7 linked regions of the Homo sapiens genome follow. The protein of the gene in region 7 purifies or fractionates together with the protein of the main gene of each other region. This does not show direct contact. Each region holds a gene or a part of one and is shown on either strand. Other genes may lie near its edges. The genes, in order: NIN, PPFIBP1, WDR62, LNPEP, IGF2BP2, CPSF6 and CEP152.

The links.
Region 1: the proteins of CEP152 (region 7) and NIN purify together in Homo sapiens (co-immunoprecipitation; one large-scale study listed by IntAct). This does not show direct contact.
Region 2: the proteins of CEP152 (region 7) and PPFIBP1 purify together in Homo sapiens (co-immunoprecipitation; one large-scale study listed by IntAct). This does not show direct contact.
Region 3: the proteins of CEP152 (region 7) and WDR62 purify together in Homo sapiens (co-immunoprecipitation; one large-scale study listed by IntAct). This does not show direct contact.
Region 4: the proteins of CEP152 (region 7) and LNPEP purify together in Homo sapiens (co-immunoprecipitation; one large-scale study listed by IntAct). This does not show direct contact.
Region 5: the proteins of CEP152 (region 7) and IGF2BP2 purify together in Homo sapiens (co-immunoprecipitation; one large-scale study listed by IntAct). This does not show direct contact.
Region 6: the proteins of CEP152 (region 7) and CPSF6 purify together in Homo sapiens (co-immunoprecipitation; one large-scale study listed by IntAct). This does not show direct contact.

What each region holds. Positions count from the first base shown.
Region 1 is NC_000014.9:50,754,663-50,758,162, reverse strand, and holds part of NIN (ninein), read left to right. Parts: coding exon 1-1,671; intron 1,672-3,295; coding exon 3,296-3,421; intron 3,422-3,500. UniProt on the Homo sapiens protein: Centrosomal protein required in the positioning and anchorage of the microtubule minus-end in epithelial cells. May also act as a centrosome maturation factor.
Region 2 is NC_000012.12:27,684,706-27,688,205, forward strand, and holds part of PPFIBP1 (liprin-beta-1), read left to right. Parts: intron 1-2,679; coding exon 2,680-2,802; intron 2,803-3,500. UniProt on the Homo sapiens protein: May regulate the disassembly of focal adhesions. Did not bind receptor-like tyrosine phosphatases type 2A.
Region 3 is NC_000019.10:36,085,897-36,089,396, forward strand, and holds part of WDR62 (WD repeat-containing protein 62), read left to right. Parts: intron 1-790; coding exon 791-916; intron 917-3,141; coding exon 3,142-3,209; intron 3,210-3,288; coding exon 3,289-3,410; intron 3,411-3,500. UniProt on the Homo sapiens protein: Required for cerebral cortical development. Plays a role in neuronal proliferation and migration.
Region 4 is NC_000005.10:96,977,580-96,981,079, forward strand, and holds part of LNPEP (leucyl-cystinyl aminopeptidase), read left to right. Parts: intron 1-1,558; coding exon 1,559-2,399; intron 2,400-3,500. UniProt on the Homo sapiens protein: Release of an N-terminal amino acid, cleaves before cysteine, leucine as well as other amino acids. Degrades peptide hormones such as oxytocin, vasopressin and angiotensin III, and plays a role in maintaining homeostasis during pregnancy.
Region 5 is NC_000003.12:185,647,043-185,650,542, reverse strand, and holds part of IGF2BP2 (insulin-like growth factor 2 mRNA-binding protein 2), read left to right. Parts: intron 1-1,008; coding exon 1,009-1,140; intron 1,141-3,404; coding exon 3,405-3,500.
Region 6 is NC_000012.12:69,242,569-69,246,068, forward strand, and holds part of CPSF6 (cleavage and polyadenylation specificity factor subunit 6), read left to right. Parts: intron 1-3,500. UniProt on the Homo sapiens protein: Component of the cleavage factor Im (CFIm) complex that functions as an activator of the pre-mRNA 3'-end cleavage and polyadenylation processing required for the maturation of pre-mRNA into functional mRNAs.
Region 7 is NC_000015.10:48,769,570-48,773,069, reverse strand, and holds part of CEP152 (centrosomal protein of 152 kDa), read left to right. Parts: intron 1-378; coding exon 379-583; intron 584-1,780; exon of another isoform or gene 1,781-1,850; intron 1,851-2,897; exon of another isoform or gene 2,898-3,500. UniProt on the Homo sapiens protein: Necessary for centrosome duplication; the function also seems to involve CEP63, CDK5RAP2 and WDR62 through a stepwise assembled complex at the centrosome that recruits CDK2 required for centriole duplication.

The sequences.
Region 1 (3,500 bases), on a different chromosome or scaffold from region 7:
CCAGGCAGGGGCTTCGGAGCAGCTGGCCAGCCAGCGGCTGGAAAGACTAGAAATGGAACATGACCAGGAAAGGCAGGAAATGATGTCCAAGCTTCTAGCCATGGAGAACATTCACAAAGCGACCTGTGAGACAGCAGATCGAGAAAGAGCCGAGATGAGCACAGAAATCTCCAGACTTCAGAGTAAAATAAAGGAAATGCAGCAGGCAACATCTCCTCTCTCAATGCTTCAGAGTGGTTGCCAGGTGATAGGAGAGGAGGAGGTGGAAGGAGATGGAGCCCTGTCCCTGCTTCAGCAAGGGGAGCAGCTGTTGGAAGAAAATGGGGACGTCCTCTTAAGCCTGCAGAGAGCTCATGAACAGGCAGTGAAGGAAAATGTGAAAATGGCTACTGAAATTTCTAGATTGCAACAGAGGCTACAAAAGTTAGAGCCAGGGTTAGTAATGTCTTCTTGTTTGGATGAGCCAGCTACTGAGTTTTTTGGAAATACTGCGGAACAAACAGAGCAGTTTTTACAGCAAAACCGAACGAAGCAAGTAGAAGGTGTGACCAGGCGGCATGTCCTAAGTGACCTGGAAGATGATGAGGTCCGGGACCTGGGAAGTACAGGGACGAGCTCTGTTCAGAGACAGGAAGTCAAAATAGAGGAGTCTGAAGCTTCAGTAGAGGGTTTTTCTGAGCTTGAAAACAGTGAAGAGACCAGGACTGAATCCTGGGAGCTGAAGAATCAGATTAGTCAGCTTCAGGAACAGCTAATGATGTTATGTGCGGACTGTGATCGAGCTTCTGAAAAGAAACAGGACCTACTTTTTGATGTTTCTGTGCTAAAAAAGAAACTGAAGATGCTTGAGAGAATCCCTGAGGCTTCTCCCAAATATAAGCTGTTGTATGAAGATGTGAGCCGAGAAAATGACTGCCTTCAGGAAGAGCTGAGAATGATGGAGACACGCTACGATGAGGCACTAGAAAATAACAAAGAACTCACTGCAGAGGTTTTCAGGTTGCAGGATGAGCTGAAGAAAATGGAGGAAGTCACTGAAACATTCCTCAGCCTGGAAAAGAGTTACGATGAGGTCAAAATAGAAAATGAGGGGCTGAATGTTCTGGTTTTGAGACTTCAAGGCAAGATTGAGAAGCTTCAGGAAAGCGTGGTCCAGCGGTGTGACTGCTGCTTATGGGAAGCCAGTTTAGAGAACCTGGAAATCGAACCTGATGGAAATATACTCCAGCTCAATCAGACACTGGAAGAGTGTGTGCCCAGGGTTAGGAGTGTACATCATGTCATAGAGGAATGTAAGCAAGAAAACCAGTACCTTGAGGGGAACACACAGCTCTTGGAAAAAGTAAAAGCACATGAAATTGCCTGGTTACATGGAACAATTCAGACACATCAAGAAAGGCCAAGAGTACAGAATCAAGTTATACTGGAGGAAAACACTACTCTCCTAGGCTTTCAAGACAAACATTTTCAGCATCAGGCCACCATAGCAGAGTTAGAACTGGAGAAAACAAAGTTACAGGAGCTGACTAGGAAGTTGAAGGAGAGAGTCACTATTTTAGTTAAGCAAAAAGATGTACTTTCTCACGGAGAAAAGGAGGAAGAGCTGAAGGCAATGATGCATGACTTGCAGATCACGTGCAGTGAGATGCAGCAAAAAGTTGAACTTCTGAGGTAATGTATGTACCTTCTAGACGTCACGAATCCCACAGAGCACCTCACCAGATCTAACTTCCACTGCTTGCCGTGCCTAGAGAAACTAACCTAGTAGTCTTCACGAAGAGAGCAGTACTCTCTAGACTTCCTTCTGCTTCTGTGCCGTATTAACAAATAAAATAACCTTGTTTAGGAGGCATTCCCTTCCGCTGTAGCAAACAAGTGTTCATATGGGGTGTGAAAGTTCACAATGGCGAGTGTTTGCTGTTTAACCATGTGCATCCTCAATGTACCTCTTTAACTTTTTTCTAGCACTTATTTCATTTAGATGGATAGGGGATTTTTTTTTTTTATTTTGCTAAGTGTTACTTTCCTCATTTTGAGGAAACATGTTATATACAAATGAATGATTTTTTGTGTATTATTAACTTAGTAGATAAGAACTCACTTCTTATGCTAATATAGAAAAAATGTTCTGTCTTTATAGTTTTGTACTCATATCACTTGAAGCACATGCTGATAACCCATAAACAGTGCAAATGGTCAGGCACCATGGCTTAAATGCCTGCAATCTCAACTGTTTGGGAGGCCAAGGCAAGAGGATTTCTTGAGGCCAGGAGTTTCCAGGCAAGCCTAGGGAACATAGCAAGACTGCCTCTACAGAAAAATAAAAAAATGTTTGCTGGGCGTGGTGGTGCACACCTGTGGTCCCAGCTACTTGGGAGGCCGAGGTGGGAGGGTTGCTTGAGCTTGAGAGGTCAAAGCTGCAGTGAGCCATGATCATGCCATTGTACTCCAGACTGGGTGACAGAGTGAGACCCTGTCTCTTTTAAAAAAAAAAAAAAAAAAAAAAAAAAAAAAGAGACAAAACAAACAGTGGAAATTTATCTTAGAACATATAATTTGAGGAGCCTCCAGATTCTAATAAATATGCTTGAAAAGCAGAGATACAAGTAGAATTAATTTGAACCACTGCCCACTTGACATTGTAAAATATAATTGCATAGTCTTCTAGCAAATTTGGTTTTTCAAAAAAAAAAAAAACTTGTAAACTATTACAGGACGTCTGAAATGTCTCTGAAATAATTTAATTCTGAATGTAGTTTTTCCTCTTCTTCAGACCATTTTTAGTCCTAAAAATCAGAATATAATGAGATGAATAAAATCACAAAGTAAACAGTGTACATATTTCATTGTGGCCCTTTGATTTCAATAGAGAATTTTCTTTCCCTAGGTACCCAGGGGCCTAAAACTAAGCTAATATAGCTTTGTAACATGGCTTATGTGTATTCAGAACAGGTAGGACTTGAGACTGAGATAAATGAAGACATTTGCTCAAAGCAGTATGCTTGCCATTGAGAAAAATCAACAACCAGAATGAGCATTGAGTCTTGATTCATTTCTCCAGGCTTAAGGGTTTTTTAGCTACACTTCTCTAACATCTTTTAGTGAAATTCTTACTTCCCAAAAGAAATGTGTCAATATGTCATAACTCGATTTCCAAATACTAAGAGACTACTAATTTAGACTTTTCTTTTTAACTGGCATTGAATACTCATCCTTTTGGAAGTTACTAGAAAATATTTTCCAAAGATGCCAGATGACTGCCTTGTAACAATTTTTTTCAATCTCTGTGCTTCAGATATGAATCTGAAAAGCTTCAACAGGAAAATTCTATTTTGAGAAATGAAATTACTACTTTAAATGAAGAAGATAGCATTTCTAACCTGAAATTAGGGACATTAAATGGATCTCAGGAAGAAATGTGGTAAGACGTATACTTACATTTTCCTAAGACATTTTTGCAAAGACTAAAATTCTTTTACTTCAGCTTTTAAAGCCTAACC
Region 2 (3,500 bases), on a different chromosome or scaffold from region 7:
TGGATTCTCAATAACCCTTTTAGTTAATATTACTAATATTATTATAGTGTGTATAATATATATTAAAAAGTTTTTAAAACTTTTTATTTTAAGATAATTTTAGATTTACAGAGGAGTTGCCAAAGCTAGAATTCTGTATACCTTTCACTCAGCTTCCTCTAACGTTAACATCTTACGTAATCATGATTACATTCATCAAAATTAAGAAATTAACGTAGATGTTAATACAATCAACTAAACTGAAGACTATTCACATTTCACCAGTTTTTCCAGTAAGGTCCTCCTTCTGTTCCAGGATCTAATCTAGGACACTACATTAAAACACACATTTTGTGACTTACGACTTCTGGGGTCAAATTTTCCAGGGTCATTTACTCTTTTATAGCCATTTCACATACGCTGCTTGTGATTTTAAGCTTGAATTTGTTCACATATATACTATATAATTATGTAATACTGTATATACATAGTATTATACACACATATGTAATACTGTAGATACATAGAGTATGTATATATATATATACACACACATACACATATATGCATGTTTGTATATATGTGTGTGTGTATCCATATACACACACACACACACTCTGTGTATCTATAGTATTATAATACTATTATTATCCCTACTTTTTTACATGTATAAAGGAAGGAATCGAGAGGTTGGGTAACTTGGTAACCAAGTTTCCACAGTTAGCAATAGAAAGTCATAGAGAGTTTGAACTCAGGCTGTTTCAAGATCCCTGCTTTTAATAGCTCACGATTATGACTAGAACACATTCAGTAAATATTTGCCTCCCTCTCTAAGTGTGAGTATGTTCCCCCTGAGAATGTGAACAAATTCAAGCTTAAAATCACAAGAAGCATCTGTGAAATGGCTATAAAAGAGTAAATGACCCTGGAAAATTTGACCCCAGAAATCCTAAGTCACAAAATATGTGTTTTAATGTGGATTAGATCCTGGAACAGAAGAAGGACCTTACTGGACAAACTGGTGAAATGTGAATAAAGTCTGCAATTTAGTCAATTGTACATTAATTTCTTAGTCTTGATGAATGTAATCATGATTATGTCAGATGTTAACATTAGAGGAGGCTGAGTGAAAGGTATACAGAATTCTATTCTATCTTTGGCAACTCCTCCACAAATTTAAAATTATTTTAAAATAAAAAGTTTTAAAAAAATTGGGAAGAAAATCACTCAGAAAGTCTGTTTTGATATAAAATAAAACTTTCTTTTTAAAATCCTTCGAAGTATAAAGAATTTCAAAAATAATTAACATTTTAATCACACTGTAAACATTGTGCATTCAGATATTTTTTTAAGCTGACAGACTAGTTAGATGAAAAGAGTCCAGACTGAAATGTTTGGAATGGGTGTCTCAATCCTAGATTAAAATAAGTACTCTTTCTAACATGTCTTAAGACACTACTTTTAAGGAATTACTCCAGAAAAACTTCAGGAAATAATTTTTGCCTGGTTAGTAGCCTCAAGGATTTAAACTGATTAATATTTTTATTAAATATTTCTGTAGTAGATTACATTTTTTTCTTTCTTTCATGAGAAGTGTTTTATCAGAAAGGTGTGTCTAAAATGGATGCTTTCCTTGTTTATTTTCTGGGTGTGTTTGGAAGTAGACTGTTGCTTATCTTCATACTGCTCCCAATATCACCTTCTTCTGAAATAATTTGTTTTGGTGTGTTTGGTATATTTGAAAATATTCCCAAGAGCCACAGACTGGTGAAAATTCTTCCTTGAAGGGGTTGATTGGTAATATATATATGTGATACTTATAACTTCATTTTTCTTCTCTCCTTGACTCTGACCAAAACCTTTGCACTGATTGATTATAGTTGTGCCAAAATTGTTCACAATGTCTGCTAGATAAACCATAATAATCTAGAGCTATTCAATAGCAGACAGGTCCTTACTAAAAAATAATTTAGAACTAGAGAATTATTAAGGTCAGGGAATAGTATAATAAGAGCACTGTTCTGATTTTCCCCAAAATTATGATGTGCCTTAGTTCAGAAAACCCAGCCTTGCTAGGAGCGGTGCCTCACGCCTGTAATCCCAGCTTTTTGGGCGGCTGAGGCCGGGGGACTGCTTGAGCCTAGGAGTTTGAGATAGCCTGGGCAGTATAGTGAGATCCTATCTCTCCAAAAAAAAAAAAGATGAAAAAAGAAAGCCAACTCTTGATCATGTTCACCAATGAGCATCATTCGCTCTTCACTATCTGCTGAAAGGAAACAGAGAGGGCAGTTTATCCAAAGCCTAAGTACTTTATCCACCGATAAAGTTCTCAAAACTAAAGAGGAAACAAATAAATTCCCTGTTTGTAGTATGTGCAGATCAAGTCAAAGCAGATCACCTTTTGTAGTGACCCAGCAAGTGCTTTTCTAACTGTGTTTTTCAGAGCCCTGGGGTTCTACAGATCTCAGAGCATCTGGAAGAGAGAGAAACAGGTGGAAGTCAGCTTCATTGGCAAAAAATACTAATCTGGGGTTTGGGGGAAGATTTTGTTCCAAATGGGAAAGTGGGTTCTGACAAGACCTTGGGGCATATTGGTTTGAGGGGCTCTTCTCCTTTTACTCCAGTTTTCTGAGATTCCCTAAGAAAGTCCTCCTGCTACAGGCCAGCACAGTGAGCTCCTCCTTTTGTTCTTTTTTGCAGGATGACTTACTGTCTCTGAAGGTTGTAAGTGTGCTACACCATCTCAGTATCAAAAGGGCCATCCAGGTCCTGAGGATCAATAACTTTGAACCAAACTGTCTACGGAGGCGGCCATCTGATGAGGTAGTGTTTTAAGATTGAGGTTTATAAGCATGCACTTCCCAGGCATGGGACTGTCCATGTGTCGAAACTAAGAGCCATTTTTCTTGGAGCCTGCAGGAAAAGCCTTAAAATCCAGCCTCATTTACTTCTTAGGCTTTTTCTGTATTCCTTCCTTTTCTCTCCATGACGGTTCCCCTTGTGTAACTAAAGCCAAGGGTTCTTTTTCAGTTATGCTTCTTCCTTTTCTTGGGTGTATTTTTTTTTCCTGACTCTAATCAACAGAGATAAATATCACTATAAAGACTTCCTTTTCTGGCCAAGTATAGTGGCCAATGCCTATAATCCCAGCACTTTGGGAGGCCAAGGCAGAAGAATCACTTGAGCCCAGGAGATCAAGACCAGCCTGGGCAACATAGGAAGACCCTGTCTCTACAAAAATAATAATAAATTAGCCAGGCATGGTGGGTGCACGCTGGTGGTCCCAGCTACTCAGGAGGCTGAGGTAGGAGGATCCGTCTGAGCCTGGGAGATGGAGGCTGCAGTGAGCCCTGATTATACCACTGCAACGCCAGCGTGGGTAAGAGAATTAGACCCTGTCTTAAAAAAAAAAAAGACTTCCTTTCCTAAAGCAATGCTTTATTAGTATATAAGAAAGCTTGAAACTCAAACTATGACAGAAATTCTTTAAAAGAGAATTTTTCCCTTTCTTTTTGCATTTA
Region 3 (3,500 bases), on a different chromosome or scaffold from region 7:
GGTCTCAAACTCCTGACGTCAGGTGATCCACCCGCCTTGGCCTCCCAAAATGCTGGGATTACAAGCGTGAACCACCATGCCCGGCTCCTCAAGATGTTTTCTAGGCTGGGCACGGTGGCTCATGCCTGTAATCCCAGCACTTTGGGAGTTACAGAGTTGGTGGAGTTATATCCTGATGTGATTTTCCCCATGTTCTTCTTTCGTTCTCTCATCCCCCATGCTGTGTGCCCCACCAACTTGTCTTGAAACATATCTTCACTCGGTTCGCCTCTCCTGATCTCCCCTCTGCCTCAGGTCATGTTATTAGGCCTCAGACATAGCAAGTGACCAGAGTAGGGAAGGCTGGTGGCAGATGGGAGTCTGGCCACAGGCAGTCAATAGGACCTGAACAAGGCCCAGGTAGCCAGACCTCAGAGGGTGAGAGGACACTGGTTTTGGAAGAGGCTGAGAGGTTGCCAGGGCTTTACCCAGCACAGACCCAGCAGGCAAGAGCGCTGGGCTCTGCTGGGGCGTCTGCTGTGGATGTCCCTGGAGGAGCGTCCATGCGCCCATCGAGACTCATCCTCCCTGAGCTGGTGGTGAGGAGGTGAAATGCCAGGGTGTGGGGGCTCTGGGAAAGACCACACAGAGCTAAGGGAGTGGCCCTTGCCAGGCTTGGGCCAAGTTGGCTACAGTTGAAGAACCAAAGACCCCTTCTCCGAGGACTGGGCAGCTTGGTCACACTGCCCTTCTGGGAGGCCAGGGCACCCACGCAGCCTTCAGGAACCAGTCTCATTCTCTCCTCTCACAGGGCTGACCTTGCTGGCCTCAGCCAGTCGGGACCGGCTGATCCATGTGCTGAACGTGGAGAAGAACTACAACCTGGAGCAGACGCTGGATGACCACTCCTCCTCCATCACCGCCATCAAGTTCGCTGGTGAGCCCCTTTCTTCCCGCTCCCTGCGCCTTGCTAGCTACCCTGCTAAAAAAGGATTCATTCTTTCAACTCTCCTGTAAAATATATATCCAAACAAGTGAATACAGTATCTGTGTACAGTATACAGAATAATGACTGGGGCCGGGTGTAATGGCTCACACCTGTAATCCCAACACTTTGGGAGGCCAAGGAGGGTGGATCACCTGAGGTCAGGAGTTCGGGACCTTCCTAGACAACATGGTGAAACCCCGTCTCTACTAAAAATACAAAAATTTGCTGGGCGGGGTGTTGTTTCTGTAATCCCAGCTACTCAGGAGGCCGAGGTGGGAGAATTGCTTGAACCTGGGAGGTGGAGGCTGCACTCCAGCCTAGGCAACAGAGTGAGACCCTGTCTCAAAAAAAAAAGAATAATGGCCAGGTACCATGGCTCACACCTGTAATCTCAGCACTTTGGGAGGCCAAGGCAGGTAGATCATGAGGTCAGGAGTTCGAGACCAGTCTGGCCAACATAGTGAAACCCCATCTCTACTAAAAATACAAAAAAATTAGCCAGGCATGGTGGTGTGCACCTGTAATCCCAGCTACTCGGGAGGCTGAGGCAGGAGAATTGTGTGAACCCGGGAGGCGGAGGTTGCAGTGAGCCAAGATTGCGCCAGTGACTCCACTCCAGCTTGGGTGACAATGCGAGACTTTGTCTCAAAAAAAAAAAAAAGAAGAATATAGGCCGGGCGTGGTGGCTCATGCTTGTCATCCCAGCACTTTGGGAGGCTGAGGCAGGCAGATCACCTGAAGCTAGGAGTTTAAGACCAGCCTGGCCAACATAGTGAAACCCCGTCTCTACTAAAAATTCAAAAAAAGTAACCGGGCATGGTGGTGCACACCTGTAATCCCAGCTACTTGGGAGGCTGAGGCAGGAGAATAGCTTGAATCCAGGAGGCCAAGGTTGCAGTGAGCCAAAATTGTTTCACTGCACTCCAGTCTGGGTAACAAGAGCAAAACTCCATCTCAAAAAAAATAAAAATAAAAAATAAGCTGGGCGTGGTGGCCGAAGTGAGTATCCACAGTTCTTAGGAGCAAGGTTTGAACTAGGACGTTGTTGATAGCAGAGACTGTTCTAATTGCTCATGGTCGTAATATTGTTAAATACGGTACTTGGATTCACCACGTGCAGGTTAAGAAGCAGAACATTACCAGAGGCTTGCAGGCCTTCTCTGGGTCCCTCCCAGGTTACCCTTCCTCCCTTATATGGGGCTCACTCCCTTCTGTGAGCCAATGACTCCTCCTTGAGCAACATCTAATACTTGTATGTCAGGCCTGGACCCTCTCAAATGTCCTGTCATGAAGGAGCATGTGTGATGTGCCCAGACTCAGAGTTTTATATTTGTTCTGTCATTTCATCCTCACCAAACTGTTATTCTGTAAAGAAATGAGACGGCCGGGGGCATCTCACGCCATTGCACTCCAGCCTGGGCAACAAGAGCGAAACTCTGTCTCAAAAAAAAAGAAATGAGAATAATAAAAGCAAGAATGTTTCTAATGCTTACCATGTGGCAGTCCCTGTTCCAAGGGCTTCACATCACTCTCCAGAGAAGGAACTGTCACCATGCCCATTGTACGGACCGGAAGTTGAGGCTCAAAGGGGAGGCCCAGGTTCAGAGCAGTGTTTAACAGCTTTGACCTTGGCACCAGAGAATGCCTGGGTTCAGTCCTGCCCCTGTCCTCTCTGTGTGCCTTGGGACAAGGACTCTGTGAACCTCTGTGTTCATGCTTGTCCAGTGGGATGGGTGGTGAGCATTCAGGAAGACCCGCTACATGCATGGGGCCTGGCCCAAGGCTCATGTGGATCTTGCAGTTGATCCTGATGGCACGAGCCTCCCAGCCTGTCTCCACTGGTCGCTGCTGCAGTCCTGCCTCTACTCCGCTACTCAAGTCACCTATCTCAATCCCAGACTGGAGAGGGTGTCCCTTCTTTGTCCCCAGCCTTTGTTTCTCTATATGCCCTTGCTCTGCAGAGCCTGCCTTGGCCACAGCTCCACCTGTGCCCCCTCACACGTACAGCTCATACCTTACAGAGTCCCACCCAGACCCAGCACCCACCTCACCACCTTTAGGAAGCCTTGATCCCAGCACAGTTGATTGATGGCTCTTGCAGTGGAGTTCCCCAGCTAGGGTCCCCTGCCCATGTGGCCCAGCCCTGCCTAACACACAGCGTCCTCCTCCCCTAGGCAACAGAGACATCCAGATGATCAGCTGTGGGGCTGACAAGAGCATCTACTTTCGCAGTGCCCAGCAGGTAGGGTGGCATGGCCTCCTTGGGGGCTGGGGTGGGGGGTTGTCGGGGCATTCTCTGAAGGTCCTGCCGGCCCTGCCAGGGTTCGGATGGACTACACTTTGTCCGTACCCACCACGTAGCAGAGAAAACCACCTTGTATGACATGGACATTGACATCACCCAGAAGTACGTGGCCGTGGCCTGCCAGGACCGCAATGTGAGGTAAGGGGTGGCCCTGGACCCTTAGCTGGCCTGGTCTGCCTTGTCCTAGGCTGTCTGCTTTCCTCCCTCTGTTCCTCTGGTCCCCAAGAA
Region 4 (3,500 bases), on a different chromosome or scaffold from region 7:
GTTTCTAACAAGCTGCAATGTGATGCAAATGCTGCAGGGTCACAGGCCACACTGAACAGCAAAACTGCAAATTTTATCCTAATATTTATCAATAATATGTTTTATGGATGAAGAGTTTCCACCATTACAGTGTTTGTTGAATAGCACAAAATACATAGCATTTATCTTAAGCTAGATATTCAGTAGTTTTTTGTAAGCTTTGCTCTCCTGATGGTGAAATAATACTCTTAGCAACTTCATTGCCAGGTATGAAATAAATAATTCAGGGCTCTCATCTTTTATTGAATTAGTTTGAGTAGAGGGATGCAATATAATGAAAAGAGCATAAACTTTTGAATCAAATTTTTAGACCTGTGCTTTAATATCAGTTTTATGACTAAATAGCTGTGTGACTTTATGAAGACGAATTAATCTATTTCTCTTTTTCTATTTTCTCATGTCTAAAATAGAATACTTGCCATTTTATAGGATTGTTGTAAGGGTTAGAAATGATAGGTATAAAGTATCTTCCCTTGTAGGGAAGATTAGTGGAGGTTTCAATTTGATAACTTTTGAGATCCCTTAAAAACTAAAATTGTATGAATTTTAAATAAAAAACATTGAACGATCTAATCCTAGGAAGTACTGATATATGGGGGATTATCGACCCTTCTACTTCTAGAGTCTTTTTTCTCAGTGATTTTGGCAAATCGGAAGGTGTGGTTTGTTGTAGTTTGTAAAAGCTCCCACTGAGATCCACTAACACTCATGGTGTGCAGTATGGTTGTTTCCCATGGAAATATGTTGTACTTCTGAAAGCCATGGAAGCATGAAAAACAGATTGAATTATAATTTTATCTGACTTTTATTGTCTTTTGATCTTTTTAAAAATCATTTCTTGCTTATGGAAATTTCCCATATAATTTGCTGCTTCCCATTTGCTGTGGGACAGAAACATTCCTCTTTCAGGGGAAAACAATAACCCATCCTGTTGCTTAGCCATACTCAATCTTAGAAATGGGCATACCAGCTTGTGGTGCTCCCTAGAGAGAATGAGACTCAGGGATGAGACCCACAAATACCTTGGAAGCAGATTTGAGGCCTGTTGGACAGAAATTCTGGGATTGCAGTGCCCAAACCCTAGAAGGGGAACCGTGGACTGTAGGTGGGCACATCCCTTTGATCCTACTGACTCCTCGCCTGGTGGGGACAGACATAGTCAGAGGAATGCCAAAACAGTGCCCTCTCAAGCCCAGGGCAGGGTCCCAGGTTGTGGGGCAGGAGTATATTAAGGAAATTAGTATATTATCTCAGCTAACTTTTTAAAAATATAATAGCCTGTTTATTTAGCTTTCTTGTTTCATAACTGTGGTATACTTTTATTTATGTTTTAGTTTTTAATGGATGACTCAATGGTATAAACATCTTATTTAATTCAGTAGCTCTGAGATGGAAATAAGTCTTAGTGACTTAAAAAAATTCTTAGTTTAAATGTGGTCTAGGTAGAAGACATGTTATTAATATTATGAGCTTTTTTTTTTCTAACTCTGTGCCTTGTTCTTATGTTTTGGTTTTTTAGATCGGCTTCAGCTCCCCAGGAATATGATTGAAAACAGCATGTTTGAGGAAGAACCAGATGTGGTGGATTTAGCCAAAGAGCCTTGTTTACATCCTCTAGAGCCTGATGAGGTGGAATATGAGCCCCGGGGTTCCCGACTGCTGGTGCGGGGTCTTGGTGAGCATGAGATGGAGGAGGATGAAGAGGATTATGAGTCATCAGCAAAGCTGCTGGGCATGTCCTTCATGAATAGAAGCTCAGGCCTTCGGAACAGTGCAACTGGTTACAGGCAGAGCCCAGATGGGGCTTGTTCAGTACCCTCTGCAAGGACCATGGTGGTCTGTGCTTTTGTCATCGTGGTTGCTGTTTCTGTAATCATGGTGATTTACTTACTGCCCAGATGTACCTTTACCAAAGAAGGCTGCCATAAAAAAAACCAGTCAATTGGACTAATTCAGCCATTTGCAACAAATGGGAAATTGTTTCCATGGGCACAGATCAGGCTTCCCACTGCCGTTGTGCCACTACGCTATGAACTCAGCCTACACCCGAACCTAACCTCGATGACATTCAGGGGTTCTGTGACAATTTCAGTTCAGGCTCTTCAGGTCACATGGAATATCATTCTTCATAGCACAGGTCATAATATTTCAAGAGTGACCTTTATGTCAGCAGTTTCAAGCCAAGAAAAACAAGCTGAGATCCTGGAATATGCATATCATGGACAGATCGCCATTGTTGCCCCCGAAGCCCTTCTAGCAGGGCACAATTATACGTTGAAGATAGAGTACTCGGCAAATATATCTAGTTCTTATTATGGGTTTTATGGCTTCTCCTACACAGATGAAAGTAATGAGAAAAAGTAGGTAGCCCTCTTAAATGATTCTGGTTTTACGCTCTGATAACTTCTGCAATATAGATCCCTTTGTCCACACCAGAGACACGAATTGTGATTTTTTTTTTTAATTTAGGAAGTTATATACAAAATAGTAGAATGGTGATTTAGAACAATATATTATCTCTCTTAGTCAACGCCTTGAGCATATATCATGGTGGGGTGGAGATAGGGGTGTGCTGGTGGAAAAGGATGGATAAAGATTATATCCAAAACTTGTTATCTTGAGTTTTTCACATTTTTAAGGTGAATCTAGTTTTCTGTCACCTCATGAAGTCTGTTGGGAAGCAGAGTAAAGAGGAGTTATTCTTTAAGACCTATTTTCCTAATGTGCAGAACTTTTAGGAGGTACTTAGTGAAATACAGAAAGAGGGCATGAAGAAGTGTGAAGTGTGGTGTGCTTACATATATCATTTTTAATATCCTTAATCTTTACTGGTTTATTATTTTTTAAAATGCCAGTCTATTTTGGATTTCTGGTGTAAATTTTTTTTAAGGTCTAGGAGAGACTTAATTTGGTTCAGAAAAAAAGGTGAGACAAAATATAAAATTATTCAGCTCCCTATTTGGACTATATATTTAGTACTTTAATCTTAGCATTCATAGCATGTAGTTTGAAATTCTGGGAAGATGGAGTTCACACAGTATGGAGGTTATTCTTAAGTAGCAGTGATATCAGTTGTCTTGTGCACAAAATCCTCACGACATCTGCTTTATGCAATTGGAACATTCTCTCATATTACTCTGTAAAACAATATGTGAATTACTGATGCTGACCATTTGGCTAATGTATGTTGACATATTAAGAGAAATAGTTAGAAATGAGTATTCTACATCTAAAGGAAACTTTTTGATCCTTCTTAAATGGAGAAAGAGACCAAGCAAGATCCATAATTCTATTCAGATAAATAATTTTTATTTTATTTTCCCTCTATGTAATACTTTTAAAATAAATGGCATACTGGCCCTGCATTTCAATTCTTGCGTGAGATCTGGGATTGAACACAAATGTATAATTGCAATGGGAACTTGAAAGTTCTTGCCTTTAGTTCTCCTTCTATAATGCCT
Region 5 (3,500 bases), on a different chromosome or scaffold from region 7:
CCCACACCTGGCTAATTTTTGTATTTTTAGTAGAGATGGGTTTTCACCATGATGACCAGGCTGATCTTGAACTCCTGGCCTCAAACAATCTGTCCACCTCGACCTTCCAAAGTGCTGGGATTAGAGGTGTGAGCCACCACGCCTGGACTGAAGTGTATACTTTAAAACGGTGACTCTCAGATTATGTAAGTTATATCTCAGTATTTTAAGTAAAGAAAAAAAAAGAACATTGTAAGCTGTGGTTCTTTTTCACTAAAAAAAAAAAAGAAAGATAGGTTCTTGGCTCCTCTGCCTTTGGAGTTAGACATCAAAAAGAAAGATTATGTTGAATGTAGTGGCTTACACCAGTAATCCCAGCATTTTGGGAGGCCAAGGTGGGAGGATCACTTGAGGCCGTGAGTTCAAGACCAACCTGGGCAACATAGACCTCATCTCTAAAAAAAAAAAAAAAAAAGAATGAAAACATGAGCTATGATCGTGCCACTGCACTCCAACCTGGGCACAGAGCAAGACCCTGTTCTCCATTAGAAATTTTTTTAATTAAAACAATATCAGGCTCCTCAAATCCCATTACCACCACCATCACCTCCATCCTTACTAACCAGGGGTATGACCCTGTGGTGATGGGATAAGAATCCCCTGAACAAATTCAGTCAATCAAGCAAATCTTTATAGGTGATAATATGGAAATAAGACATAGAGTTGCATCCCCTCACCCATCCCCTTAGCCCTGACACACAGAAAGCTCCCTAGAGGAGGCAGTCTTGTGCAAACCACCAAAACATGAATGCCCATCCACATTTTTCAAAGTGCAGCCATCTGACGTGGCGGGAGCAGCGCCCCCCAGGTCTGTGAGCGGAGGCTGGGGCACGCAGCTTCCTGTGTGTCCCAGGGAGTGTGGGAATGGGACTGACCCATTGTCTGGACTCTCCAGTGCCCTTCGCAGCACTGATGAAGTGGCCGGCTGCTGGCTGACTGAGAGTCATTAGTCATGTCTTGCTCTCTCAGGCCCAGGGACGGATCTTTGGGAAACTGAAAGAGGAAAACTTCTTTAACCCCAAAGAAGAAGTGAAGCTGGAAGCGCATATCAGAGTGCCCTCTTCCACAGCTGGCCGGGTGATTGGCAAAGGTGGCAAGACCGTAAGTGTGCTCCGGGCTCGCTTCATCACCTGGGTCAGATTCCCCGCTCTGGCCTTGCCTGAGTTCCCTCAGTCTCCCCTTGGCGCCTTCTGTCCCAATGTACAGTCAGGGTCTTTGGCAGATAAACTAAGGCTCTCCTGGCATCTGAGCCCTTTGAGGCATGAGGATCCCAAGGACAAAAATGTCATCGGCTTCACTCCACAACTTAGGGCCCCCAATCCGTGGTGCTGTAAGCCCAGCACCAAAAATACCACAGTCCTGTGCCCAGTAATACCCATCTTGACTCCATGGTCAGTGAAGGCCTCCACTCCCTGAAAACAGAGAGGCTGTCTTCTGCCCCCTTTATACCCACATGTAGCAGCCATTAAAATTGGAAAGGGGGGATTCCCACCGAGAGAGATGCTAACCCACTTGGCAGACCACCACCTTCCCTGGATTTCACTCAGGCCTGTGCCCTGCACTCTCTTCTGACTCTCAGCCCTCCTGACAGATGCCTCCAGTCCCTAACTCCCCCTCCACAGGCTCTATCTTCTGGCTGTTTCCCAAACATGGCTCTAGGGGAGCTAGTTTAGCAGTAGGAGGGTGGGCAAGGAGGAGATTGTTTTTTGAAAGATCATCTGCATTTTCTACTGGAAGGTGCAGGAACAAACACAGTGTAGTTTGAAAAGTGCCAGAGCGTTAACTTTGAAGCTTGTTGGAATGAGCCAGGTGGTCTGTAGACCCAGGTATGTTCTGGAATGTGACTTACTGACCTGGGTGGGGAGATGACCACTGAGAAGTTCCAGTAGAGCCTAGTGCAGGCTTGCTGGCAAAGTAGCAGTGTTGGGTGGCAGGAACTTGGCGGGGAGGCGGGGGTCTCTTGAGTCCTGAGTGTGTATGTGTATATATGTATATGTGTGTTATTTGCTGTTTTTGTAAAGCTTTTTTTTTTTTTTTTTTGAGACAGAGTTTCGCTCTTGTCACCCAGGCTGGAGTGCAGTGGTGCCATCTGTGCTCACTGCAACCTCCACCTCCCTGGTTCAGGTGATTCTCCTTCCTCGGCCTCCTGAGTAGCTGGGACTGCAGGCGCCCGCCACCATGCCCAGCTAATTTTTTATATTTTTAGTATAGACGGGGTTTCACCATTTTGGTCAGGTCAGGCTGGTCTCGAACTCCCGACCTCAGGTGATCCGCCCGCCTCGGCCTCCCAAAGTGCTGGGATTACAGGCGTGAGCCACCACACCCAGCTGTTGTAAAGCTCTTTACATAGAAACTCTTAAACGGAATTCAAAACCAAGTTCTAGATGTAATGAGTCAGCTTTATACGAAAGAACGAAGCGGTGTGGAATCAAAGGATTCCCCGTCTCCAGAATGCAGTCGGCGCTCCAGGGCACACACTGCGCTTTAGGCGGAGCTGGAATGTAGGAGGCAAAAGAAAGCAGATGGATCAGCAGGGAGTAGAATCCTGAGCCCCTGGGTGTCCTGTTTAGCTATTTCAGAACCAGTCACTGAATTCTCTGCATCCTCCAGACTTTCAGGTTTCCCCTAAAGCACATGCTGAACCCGCCTGTGAGCTCGGCATCAGGCCAGAGGGCCAGAGGACGGGGTCTGAGCCCTCAGGAAGCGTGCAGTCCTGTTGGGAAGCAGGCCCAGTGAGGCAGCGGGGAGGATGAACAATGCAGGCAGTGGTTGGAGACACGAGGAGCTCAGCATGGGCTGGAGGCTTCATGGAGGTGGGCCTGGGGTGGGATCCAGTGGCCGGGAGAGAGGACAACAATCCAAGGGTAGGAACAGCATGAGCAAGTCTTGGCGGCAGGAGTGAAAACGAGGAGGAGGGAACAGCAGGGCTGATTCGCAGGGAAAGTTAACCAAGAGGAGGTTTGGGCTCGTGGTCAGCACCCAGGACAGCATGTCCAGGAGGAATGATCTTACAGGGTAGGGGTGGGGAGTGGGGGGGTATGGGAAAGCCTGGGGTCTCTGTGAGCATGTGCAGGCCTGCGTTGATGGGAACTCCAGAATAAGAGAACTTCGCCTCAGAAGCAGCCCCAGGAATCTGTGGCTGGACTCCCTCTCCCTGTCATTGAGCCTGTCAGGGCCCAACCAACATGGCCCCATGTGCTCAGGGGCAGAGGAGCCCCCGGGGTGTCCTTGATAAAAGGAAAGGAGAGCAGAGTCCAGCCCCCCTCCTTCCCCTGCTCCACCTCTTGGCCCCTCACTCCGTCCTGAGCCCACCACGTTGACGGGGAGGGAACCTATCCAACCCGTTGCCGTTTCTCCCTTCACAGGTGAACGAACTGCAGAACTTAACCAGTGCAGAAGTCATCGTGCCTCGTGACCAAACGCCAGATGAAAATGAGGAAGTGATCGTCAGAATTATCGGG
Region 6 (3,500 bases), on a different chromosome or scaffold from region 7:
CTCCTTATGGGTTCTCTTTAGTTCTTAGAGGTCTTTGGATGTCACCAAGCTGAGAACAGCTGGAAGGGGAATTTGAACATCTTCCAAACCTCTCTATTACTTGAAGTTGAGAAGAAAGTGATTCTGTCTCACAGTAGCATATCAATTCAGTTTAAACTGCATTTATACTCAAGTGTAGTAATTACTAGCCCAATATTTAGTAATTGTAGATTTTAAAATTCTGGCCAAAACTAAATAATTTAAAAGTTGAATTGTTTAGCGCGAGTGTGGTGGCTCATGCCTGTAATCCCAGCACTTTGGGAGGCCAAGGTGGGCAGATCGCTTGAGGTCAGGAGTTGCAGACCAGCCTGGCCAACATGGTGAAACCCCATCTCTATCAAAATACAAAAATTGGCCGAGTATGGTGGTGCCTGCCTGTAATCCCAGCTAATCAGTAAGCTAAGCAGGAGAATCGCTTGAACCTGGGAGGCAGAGGTTGCAGTGAGCCAAGATCGGGCCACTGCACTCCAGCAAGACCCTGTCTCAAAAAAAAAAGATTGAATTGTTCAAAATACATTTGTTGAGTGTCTGTTATGTGCCAACAACGAGGGATACAAAGTTTAGGTAGTCTCTACCCTTAGAGTACACTGTAGGGGAGCTGAGAGATACCTACATACAGTAGTGCACACGTATCCACAGTTCCACTTTCTGTGGTTTCAGTTACCCGTGGTTCTGAGGTCTGAAAATATTACATACAATAAGGTAGTTTGAGAGATACTATATTTAGCTAACTTTTATGACAGTAAACTGTTCTACAATCATGTGTCGCTTCACGATGGCGGTATGTTCTGAGAAGTCCATCTTAGGTGCTTTTGTCATTTGTGATCATAGAGTGCTTTTGCATTTCAAACCTGGAAGGTACAGCCTACTACACATGTAGGCTATATGGTGTAGCCTGTTGCTCCTAGGCTACAAACTTGTACAACATATTACTGTACTGAATACTGTAGGCAGTTGTAACACAGTGGTATTTGTGTATCTAATATATCTAAACAGAAAAGGTAAGTGAAAATCTTGATATAAAAGATAAAAAGTGGCACACTTGTGTAGGGCACTCATGAAAGGAACCTGCATGATTGGAAGTTGCTCTGGGAGAGTCAGCAAGTGAGTGGTGGGTGAATGTGAAGATCTGGGACATGCTGCTGTAGACTTCATAAACACTGTACAGTACACTCAGGCTACACTAAATTTATTTAAACTTTTTTCTTCAATAATACATGAGCTTACTGTAATGTTTTCACTTGATTGATTATTTTCTCACTGTCATCCAGTCTGGAGTGCGGTGGTGCAGTTGTGGCTCACTGCAGCCTTTATCTCCCAGGCTCAAGCAGTCCTCCTGTCTTAGTCTCCAGAGCAGCTGAGACTACAGGCATGTGCCACCATGCCTGGCTAATTTCAAATTTTTTTTGTAGGGATGAGGTCCCAGCTAGTCTCCAGCTCCTGGGCTCAAGCTGTCTTCTTGCTTTGACCTACCAGTGTTGGGATTACAGGCGTGAGCCACTGTGACTGGCCCGTTTTTACTTTATAAATTTGGACTCTTCAATAATAACAGTTTAAAATACAAACACATTGTGTAACTATATAAAATATTTTCTTTATATCCTTATACTGTAAACTTACTTCTTTTTTTTGTTTTGTTTTGTTTTGAGATGGAGTCTCGCTTTGTCACCCAGGCTGAAGTGCAGTGGCGCGATCTTGGCTCACCGCAACCTCTGCCTCCTGGGTTCAAGCAGTTCTCCTGCCTCAGCTGGGATTACAGGCACTCACCACCATGCCTGCCTAATTATTGTATTTTTAGTAAGAGACGAGGTTTCACATGTTGGCCAGGCTGGTCTCGAACTCGTGACCTCAAGTGATCCTCTTGCCTTGGCTTCCCAAAGCGCTGGGATTACAGGCATGAGTCACCACACTGGGCCTAAACTTTTTTCTATTAAATTTTTTTTTTTAACTTTTAAAATTAATTTTATTTTAGAAGAGACAAGGTCTTACTGTGTTGCACAGGTCTCAAACTCCTGGCCTCATGTGATCCTCTTGCCTCAGCCTCCCAAAGGAGGCTGGAATTACAGGCATGAACGACTGAACCTGGTCTTTTTTTTTTTAAGCTTTTTTTAAAAACTAAGATATACACACATTAACCTAGGCCTGCACAGGGTCAGGATTATCAATATCACTGTCTTCCATCTCTGCATCTTGTCCCACTGGAAAGGTCTTCAGGGGCAGTATGATGCATGGGCTGTCATCTCCTAGGATAACTGCCTTCTTCTGTAATACGTGGTGAAGGACTGACTTGCCTGAGGCTGTTTTACAGTTAACTTTTTGAAGTAGGAAGAGTACACTCTAACATAATGATTAAAAGTATGGTATAGTTGGCCTTGGTGTGGTGGTTCACACCTGTAATCCCAGTGCTTTGAGAGCCTGAGGCGGCAGATTGCTTGAGGCCAGGAGTTCGAGACCAGCTTGGCCAACATGTCGAAACTCCGTCTCTATTTAAAAAAAAAAAAAAAAAAGTGTAAAAACAAAAAAGTATAGTATAATAAATACATAAACCAGTAACACAGTCGCTTATTGTCAAGTATTGTGTACTGTACATAATTGTATGTGCTATTCTTTTATATGACTGAGAGCACAGTAGGTTTGTTCACACCAGCATTACGAGCCCAAACGTGAGGAATGCATTGGGCTAAGATCGCTAAACAATAGTAATTTTTCAGCTCCATTATAATCTGACCACCTGGACCAAAACATTGTCATGCATGACTAAATTGTTCTCTTTTATTAGTTATTTTTTACAGTGCCTACTTTATAAATTAAACTTTATCGTAGGTATATATAAAGAAAAACATAGTATATTTAGGGTTCCTTGCTTTCCGTGGCTTTAGGCATCCACTGGGGGTCTTGGAACATATCCCTCTCAGATAAGAGGGGACTACTATAATTATAGCACACTGACAGGTCCTATATTGTAGTTACCATTCTTTTATGTTTTATGTGTAAAGTTTTGTTGATCTGGAGAGGAAAGTCAAAAAAATTCTGTGAACTTTAGGGAAACTTACACTGCTTGCATTGAAGTAGTATGTTTTGTTGCTTGTTTGGGAGTCAGAAACTCTTAATGTGGAATTTAGTTTCTGCTCTGTCAGGCCATCACCGATAGCACAAATTTAGTAATCTGACCACCCAGCTTTAAAATGGAAGTGTAGGCCAGGTGCGGTGGCTCATGCCTATAATTCCAGCAGTTTGGGAGGCTGAAGTAGGCGGATCACTTGAGGTCAGGAGTTTGAGACCTGCCTGGCCAACATGGCGAAACCCCTGTCTCTACTAAAAATACAAAATTTAGCCAGGTATGATAGTGCACACCTGTAATTCCAGCTACTTCAGAGGCTGAGGCAGGAGAATTGCTTGAACCTGGGGGGCAGAGGCTGCAGTGAGCTGAGATCAGGCCACTGTACTCCAGCCTGAGTGAC
Region 7 (3,500 bases):
CTAGTGTTTAGTATTCTTTTCTTCCTTAATATTTATGTTGTTTCTGTTAGAGTCATAAAGGGCATGTATATACAGCATGCAGTTTTCCAATAACACAAATGTAAATTATGTCAAAGTTCACATTTCTAAGCTACTTACAGTGAGCAGCAGGACTAAGCTTGAGAAGGCTCTTCCTGTGAATAAACGTATTTCTGTATATAGAGACATGGCAAAGGTGATAATCCTTGTGTATGACAACATTTAAAATTGTTTTGAAATACTAGTATATAATTGTATAGGTGACAAAACATGTTCACCACTGTGGTCAGTGCTTTTAGGGAATAACCATGTCTGATTTATTACTTGATTTAATGTTAAAAATCACAATTTCTCCATTAGCATTGTACAAGAAGAAGACCCAAATGAAGAGCTTTCAAAAGATGAGTTCATTCTGAAGTTAAAGGCAGAAGTACAGCGTTTGCTGGGTAGCAACTCAATGAAGCGTCATCTGGTGTCTCAGTTACAAAATGACCTCAAAGACTGTCATAAGAAAATTGAAGATCTCCACCAAGTGAAGAAGGATGAAAAAAGCATTGAGGTTGAGGTATGTAAAGCCTATAGAGTTAAAAAACCATTTTTAAAAGGCTCAATAAAGAAAACTTTTACACTTTTTTTTTTTTGAGACAGGGCGTCACTCTGTCTTCCAGGCTGGAGGGCAGTGGTGGAAACATGGCTCCCTGTAGCCTCAACCTCCCAGGCTAAAGCGATGCTCCCACCTCAGCCTCCTGAGTAGCTGGGACCACAGGCGCACGCCACTATGCCTGGCTAATTTTTAAATTTTTTGTAGAGACAGGTTCCCACAATGTTGCCCAGGCTGGTCTCAAACTCCTGGGCTCAAGCAATCCTCCCACCTCAATCTCTCAAGGTGTTGGATTACAGGTGTGACTAACCACATCCAGCCCTTTTACATGTTTTTAAATTAATAAACCTTTGGCTTTCAGGAGTTTATTTGACATTTTTAGAAATAAAGTTTAAAGAAGGAAATGCCATTTTTAAAGGGATACTGACAGTCCCTGACTTAGGATGGTTTGACTTACAATTTTTAGACTTTACAGTGGTGGAAAAGTTATGTGCATTCAGTAGAAACCATATTTCAAGTACCTGTAAAACAGTTCTGTTTTTTACTTTCAGTACAGTGTTCAATAAATTTCATGAGATATTCAACAGTTTATTATAAATGAAGCTTTGCATTAGATGACTTTGCATAACTGTTGGCTATTATAAGTGTTCTGAGCACATTTAAGGTAGGCCAGGCTAAGCTATGGTTTTAATAGGTTAGATGCATTAAATGCATTTTTGACTTAATGATATTTTCAACTTATAATGATTTTATTAGGTGATAAACCCATTGTAAGTTGAAAAGCATCTGTATGTTTTTTCTGGTTACTCTTGGCACCTAGTAAATGAGATACCAATTAGGTAAAATTCCTTTACCATAAATACAAGGAAGTATTCTCTGTAACAAGGAATCTGCATTTCTTTAAGATTGGCTTTTACCAATAGTGCTCTAAAATCTAGTTAAAATAAATCCTCCATAGAAATCCTGTAGTATTTTCTATGAGATTTTCCTGGCCCATGTTCTTACAACAAAAGTCATTCTATATGAGGACATTAATTATATAGTGATGATGGTACAGATATTATATAGTGGTCGTGGTACTATGGGAAAGTACACAAAATCTGGTTTTGTCAGTCATTGAAATCCACCTCTGTATTCTTCAGTTCGGAAAATGAAGCTGGAGCACTTTGTGACACTTTTGAATTTACAGAGCCAATTTCAGACAAATTGAAACTAAACACATGACTAATAAGTAAGTCAAAGATATTTCTGTAAGATCATGCTATCACAGAGATCTTTAGGGCTGCTCTCCTTTATAGATCCTTTTTTTTACCCTTCCATATTTCACAAATCATCAGCCATCTATACTCCCAATAGAAAATAATATATAAAACACCTAATAACTAAGAAAAGCAAAAGAAGAGGGAAAAGGAATGTGGGTAGTATACTCCTTTTCCTCCTGGGTGGAGATAATTGTTTACTTCCTTCTTTAGTACTGTTTTATCTCCTATTTAAACTAGGAGTTGTGTTCATTAGAACAGTTCTGCTAAAGTATGTATAATATTCTGTGCTAATTATTGTGGAATTTTGATTGTGGTTAATTTTTATATTTTGGAAAAACAGTGTTTTTGCTATCAAAATCTTTTCCAGCCTGATTCCCTCTTCTGAGTAACTACATTTGATGACTAAAACATAGATTTTAATATTAACAGCAAATGAGAGAGACTCCTCCCCGCCCTGCCCCCTGCACATTTAACATCTTTAAATCAAGCTGTTTTCATTGTTGCCCTACATTTCTTTAAAAGGATGGGAATGAAAGCTTGTTTCTCAATTTGCATTAAGACATTAGAGTTTATTAGTTTAAGCATTTTGGTGGGAGTGCTCTAGGATTTAGGATACTAGAAACCTGATTTTGAGTCTGAACCTTAGCTCAGATATCTTGGTGCTTTCTTTGTTCTGTATTAAACTTGCTAATGGCATTTGCTATACAGATACACTTTATCATGTGTAGCAGTAGATAGTGGTCATGCATTGTACTGTTTTTTAGCCTTCCCATTTTCCTCTGTAGTCTGGTTGATCAATAGATCAAAGGAATAACTATCTCATCTTTGAGTATTCTTTTTGTCCAGCTACTCTATTGCCATAGTGAATTCTCGGTAGTGTACATCTAAACTCCAATTTTTCTCAAAGTTACTTCAGCTGTGGACTCAAGTGATCTGCCCACCTCCACCTCCCAAAGTGCTCGGATTACAAGGATGAGCCACTGTGTTGTGGCAAAGAGCTCAGAGTCCAGGTACACAACAAGTGAAACGGAGTAGATATATTTTTAAAATCTTTGTAACCCCCATCAATGAATAAAAAGAAAAGTAGATAAGGAAAACTCTCAGAGGAAAATATGCAAAGTTAAATGAACAGATAAATCTGGGAAGGTGGAAAAACAAATGAACAATGAAGGTATATAAGAGGTTCCACTTTGGTGGTGACACAAGAAATACAAATGAAAGCAATTGTTAGATATTCTTTTCCCATCAAAGATAATTATTTAAAGATAATCACTGCCATTGGAGGCAAAGAGAGATGGGCAGACCCATGTACTACCTGACAGTATACATTTGGATGACATTTCTGGAAGGCAATTCGCCAAAGTCTATCATGAGTCTTAAAAATTGTATGTATTGAATAAAATATATGTCCGTGAGTGAATGCTGACATAAATGAATACATACAGAAATAGAATAAATGCTTGATCTTAGTAGGAGAACATATGATGAGAAATAGGATATTTGTATTGTCTCAAAGTATCCTATAAGATACTTATCATTTATTATAAAACAAAAAATAGTAAGTTTACAATGGAGATGACAGATCCCACCTTCAATTGATTATTACCAGTGGTGAGACA